2 separate regions of the Homo sapiens genome follow, and region 1 is linked to region 2. Evidence: fine-mapped expression QTL. A gene starts in region 2. The other region holds a variant in brackets. All regions are shown on one strand. Distances are between the middles of the regions.

The links. PIP is the estimated chance that this variant, and not a neighbour inherited with it, causes the effect.
Region 1: its variant is the best candidate, but not a certain one, in a credible set for the expression of LACC1 in tibial nerve (GTEx, PIP 0.68).

Annotation. Positions count from the first base shown.
Region 1 is chr13:43,932,363-43,935,278 of GRCh38, forward strand. No RefSeq gene overlaps it. Among named protein-coding and RNA genes, the nearest start is that of LACC1, 54 kb to the left of the region's middle. RefSeq lists a silencer at 1,162-1,301. The variant G/A (reference allele first, on the strand shown) is at 1,464.
Region 2 is chr13:43,878,223-43,881,138 of GRCh38, forward strand. It overlaps LACC1 (laccase domain containing 1), which reads left to right and starts at 1,682. Exons shown (of 7, transcript NM_153218.4): 1 at 1,682-1,897; 2 at 2,730-2,916. The coding sequence starts at 2,764. CCDC122 (coiled-coil domain containing 122) reads right to left here and starts at 1,518. Exons shown (of 7, transcript NM_144974.5): 1 at 1,409-1,518. RefSeq lists a silencer at 1,420-1,569.

The DNA.
Region 1 (2,916 bases), 54 kb after region 2:
TAGCAGTAACTTAACTATACATTGGAAGTGACTATGAATTACATAAAATACCCCACTAAACCCAAACTAAATGAGTCCCCAACTCAATATCCTCTTAGAAGAACTCAAAAACCTGTTATACCTAATGTTTCTAGGAAAGTGTGATGGAGAGAAGTTGGAATAGACTTAATGGTTGTATTTAAAGCATTTTACTTTTTCAAACTTTATAACAACATATGACTTGTAAATATATTATTGAGACAGTAGAAACAGCCTGTGCAAGTGAGAGACCCTAAAGGTTAAGTTTCATTAGCTTCATGGTAAATCTACTCAAGGGATGACTATTGTAGGGGCAAGTCTGAAATTCTTAGTAAGTCCTAGAAGGAACATTTAGCACAGATTATTGATACTTATGTTTATAATGTTAGGCACTTACAACCAGTAGTTGTCAGCTACAGGCTTAAGTACCAATTCTGGGTCAACAGAAAAAGTCACCGACTTCCTCTGTTCTTTATTTAGTGTTTTAATCTAGACCACGGTCCCTTCTTACCCTGCACATTCTCCCAGGAACCTCATCTTCTCTCATCTATTTAATTGCCACCTTTAAGGTAATAATTCCCAAATCTAGCCCAATCTCTCTCCTGAACTTTAGACATGTATGTTCCACTGTTCATTGATATTCCTGCATCAACTAGAACCTCTTGTCTTTCTTTTCAACCTGCCCTTACCTCCTGTATTGACCAAAGAAAAATCCTAAGAATTATCCATGGCTTCTTACTCTCTGACCTCACCCTACCAACTGCTGAGCACAGTGCCAGGCACATAGTAGATGTGTACTAGACTTGAGGTATTATGTTATAATGTTATAATCATATCAATAACTAAGTCCTGTTGGAGTTCATTCTAAGTATTTCTAATCCACCACTCTCCAGTCCTACTATTCTTATCCAGGCTACCATGTTGTCTCATGTGGATGGATTATTGCAATACTCTTATCTCTACCTCCTATCTTACCCCCTTCCCTAAAATTCATTGTCCACACTGAAACCTGAATGGTTTTTGAAAATGGAACTCTTACTTAGGACACTCTTCTGATGACTATTCTTCGAAGCCTTCATATTGTCCTGGGTATGAAGTTCTAACTCCTTTACCCCTCTTTCAAGGGCCTATACCAGGCCCAATCATACCTCTACTCTCATTTCTTACCACTTTTCTGAAATGAACTCTGTTCTGGCCACATTGAGTATTTCAGTTCCTCAAATTGCCATGCACTCAGTTCCCAGACCCTTTCACTTCTAAATTTCGATTGAACACCAATCATAATGACTCTATCACCTAAATATTTTTTCCATGCCTCTCTCCCACTCCCACATTGCTGCCAGTCTGTTTTTCATCACTTCTTTCTCTGCAATAACCTCTTAATTGATCTCTTCTTGATCCTAGCTTGCTCCTTTCAATTCTTTCTTCACTCTGCCAGCAGAATG[G/A]CCTTTCAGAAACAAACATTTTATCTTATCTCTCCTTTCCTTAAACACATTAATGGCATGTATCCCTACAACTTTTAGGAGAAAAATAAAACGTCTTAACACATAGAGTCCTTTGTGATTTGGTTTCTGCCCATCTAGATCTCTAGTTTCATCTTTTACCCCTCTCTCATACAGATCATTTCCCAGAATGAGGTCCTCCAGTTTTCTAAATATCATGCACTTTCGTACCTCTGGGCTATGCCACGTACAGTTTTCTTTGTGCTTTTATAGCATCCTTATCACACATTTATCTTTCCAACTAGATCACACACTTGTAGGGTTGTTTCTTTATATTTTTTGTGTTTTCTACAATAGTCACTTATTATTTTTACATTTTAACAAAATAAAATAATTGTGAAGGGCGCTATCCATTGAGGAAATTGGATATCCATTGAGGGAATTTAGTTGTAGAAGAGAAAAATGTGGTGGGATGAGACAGGCAACAGGATGGGTGGTGGGTCACAATACCTGTTTTCAAACATCCAAGGGCTTTCTTGGAAGGGTTTAGATGTCCATCTGGTGTAGATTTTAGGGAAACAGATTTCCTCTTAGTGTAAGAAAGTTGAACAGAGTTGTCTGAAGAGGGAATGAGCTGCTGAGTCAATAAGAGGTGAATGAATCACTTTTGGGTTTGTTTAGTGGAAGGGCTCTCACTGATACAGGGAGATTTCTGTTGAAAGAGGGAATTCAGCCTCTTCTGGAAGGTTGGCTCAAGTGGTCTGTGAGGTCTCTTCTATTCTTTGAATTTCACCATTACAAAAATAATTTAATAGCTTTCCACCCTTATACCCTGAAAACAGATTGATTTAACACTATTTAGAGGGTTCTGGTGTGGCTAGAGGAGCACAGGCCCCTCTCAGAATTCAATGTTAGTCATATCTTTGGTAAGAACTATCTATCTATCTATCTAACTATCTATCTATCTTTGATAGAGCCCTTTTCCTTCTTTGTGTTGTTCATCTTTTTTTCTCATAAGTATCCCATTCCTGATGGCCAACACATGACAGAATAGTAGTAAATGAATAACTTTCTATGTGTTAGGACACAACACCTTACTCTGTCCTATATTATGTTTCTCTTTGTGCTTGAATTATCTACCCAATTAGAATGTAAACTGTGCCTTAAATTTGTATGTTCCCCCCTGCATCTTTAAATATGGAATTATGGAATTCTTACTAAAGATTATATTTATCTGTAGTAATAATTCCATATATAAATTAAACTAAATTGAATTTAGGCAACAGGAAAACAGACCCAACAAATCCACCCTGAAATATTTTAGTAATCTATCAATCAAAGGGATTAAAAGAGATTTTAAAAACCCCATGAACATGGAACCTCAGTATAATCTGGCATACACAAAAGTAGTTTCTGAAATGTGGCAAATCGCCAGTCCTGGCAAATTGGGAAGGTA
Region 2 (2,916 bases):
GGTGCAAAAGTAATTGTGGTCTTTGTCAATGGCAAAAACCGCAATTACCTTTGCACCAATCTAATGATATTTAACATAAACAAACTCAGGGCAGAGTGCACCTTCTGATTGGGTGTACCATCTACCGCTCGGGGCTCTTTAACAAATGACCAAAGAAAACATGAATTTTGACATAACTGGTGCTAGGGTTATTGAAGGGTGGGTTTCCATTCTGGGTTAGTGCTCCCAGTCTCTAGTCAAGCACAAGAACATGCCTACCCCAGAGGGCTCTTCCAAATTCCCAGCTATCTGAGATTATGAGACAAAGGTTCTTTAGCGCCTACCAAATGAGCAACAATGAAGATAAAAGGGACCTCTCCTTCCATCATAACCAGTTCCCCAGGAAGCACCATTTCTCTTACTCTTGGAAGGTCGGATATTTTTTCCCTTTACCATACACTGGCCTTCCATGTCCTAACTGCTATTTTCAAATAAATGAACGTTATATTCTTGGAGGACAGATCAGGGATGCTAAACTGCACCTTTATCATGATTTTAGGGATGAGCGCCTTTTACTTAAGTCCTGCTAGTGGCACATATTTTAAAAGGCCATAGAGGACATCCGTGTTGTCAACACAAGTGAAGGCGCTCGGAAGAGTGTTGGTCAGCAAGAATCAGCACAAAGACATTGGAGGAGAGACAACAGCTTGTTTCTGGAAACAAATGAACAACAAAAAAACACTAAAACATCTCGAGGGGGCCCCTGACTTGAGCCCTGCATGGGAAAAGCTGCCAAGAGCTAGCATGACAAGGGACTGGCCCTGGGCTGCGGTGAGGAAACCCAGCGTCCTGACCACACTGCTGGGTCAGCGAGGCGTCCCTCAGAGACCGGAAACGCGGACTTCAGCTCGCTTGGGAAACGGCTTCCATTAGCAGAAGGGAGACTGCGGTTTAGTCCCGAGGTCGCTCCAGCAGCCCGGCCTCACGCGACCCACCATTCCCGCCGCCCCCTCACGGTGCCCGCCGTTCCCGCCGCCCGGCTTTCTAACCGGGCCCCTAGTTCCCCGCCCCGTGCCCTCTGGAGACCTGCAGCTCCTGCCGCCCTGCGCCCGCTCCCAGGGCCCGTCGTTCCGCCGCCCTATCCCTCCTCAAGGGGCCCCTAGCTGCCTCCTCGCGACCCTTTCCGGACTCGGCCTGCCCACTCCTGCCCGCTAACCCGCCTGGCTCCCGGGCGAGAGCCCTCGCGCGGCTCTGGTTCCTGTTCCTCTAACGCCGCCGGGGCTGCGGGATGCCGACTCCGCGGACCGCCCAGACCCGGAACTGCTGAGGCAGCAGCGGGCTCGCGGCGCTTGGCTCATCCCGGGATTCCCCAGCTCTCGCGCTGGGCCCGCCGCGTTCGCACCAAGCACGCCAGGCGGCCCTGGCCTACCTCCCTCCCGCCTCCCGGCAGCTGGCACGAGGGAACCTGGCCGTCAGGTTTCCCCTGGGATCCTGGGACGGTATCAGGCGGGGAATCTGTGCGGCCGCGGCGAGGTAGGTGAGGTGAGGCGGGGCGAGGTGGGCGAGGGGGGCGAGGTGAGGCGGGGCGAGGCGGGGCGAGGCGAGGCGGGGCGAGGTGGGCGAGGTGGGCGAGGTGAGGCGGGGCGGGTGTCGTCGCGCTGGGCCGAGCTTACGACTCCAGCTGACCCGCTCGCGGCTGCCCAATTTCGTTGAGGCTCAGGACGAGGGACGGGGCGGCAAATTGTCACAGAGGTCGCCGTAGACCGGTGTGCAACCGAAGGTGAAGAGCGGGAAGGCGAGGACCGAATCGCCTCTGGTGTGCGTTGTCCGACAGGAAGTCCCGAATGGGCTGTGAGCCGCCGGTGGAGGTGCCCGGGCAGGTGCAGAGCCACAGCCTGCGCCCCGTGAGCCGAGGCGGGTAGGAGGAACAGGGACCTGGCGGCGACACACGTTGGGCGGAAATTCACAATGAACAGGGAAGGGGGGACGGTCACCCACTCAAAACTGGCTAAATGAACCTCAGAGGGAGCCCCGAGAGATGGGGAGCAAAGGTTAGGGGAAGCGGCAGGAGAAAACCTTCTTGGGGCAAAGGGCGTCACCAAAGGGGGTCACCGGAGCCCCGCAGGTTGGGGTGGGAGGGCTGGGCTGGAGGTGAGCAAAGCTGCACGGGGAGAATGAATTAAGAAAGTTGAGAGGAAGCCTGTCTCATCCAAATCACTATAGCTTTTGTGGTCATTGCTAAGTGTGGAGTACTGCGCAAATCCTGAAGGGAACTCTATTAGCCATCTCAGCTTTTATCATCTTAAAACGCGAATTTCGCGTGCAGCTCCATTTAGCTTCGTAAACTTAAGCCCCCGCATATGAAAGGATGAGACCTAATATGACAATCATGTCAGGACTAATGATATATCACACAGGTTGACACTCTGCAATTTAAAAACAGGACTTTGTCTAAACTCCACAAGTAATTCCTTACTCAAAAGTTCTGTGTAAACAAAACAGAGGAACTGTCGTGCTGCTGGAAAGATGTACCAGCATTTTCACAAAACGAATTAAAAGATGGCTTTGCTTTCACTGTCATGGTTCTGTTGTGACAGAGTAGACTGGCTTTTCTGGGAGGGGCCTAGATTTACTATTTTAGTTACATTTTAAAATCAGTGTAATTACTTCGTTTTTAATCTACCACAAATTTCTGTTGTAACTATAAGATTTATATAATCTTATATTCTTACACTAATTTTTATTTGCAGGTGATTTATTTGGCATAAAAGTATTCTTTCAAGGATGGCAGAAGCTGTTTTGATTGATCTTTTTGGTTTGAAATTGAACTCTCAAAAAAACTGCCATCAGACATTACTGAAGACTTTGAATGCTGTCCAATACCACCATGCTGCCAAGGCCAAGTTTCTCTGTATAATGTGTTGCAGTAACATCAGC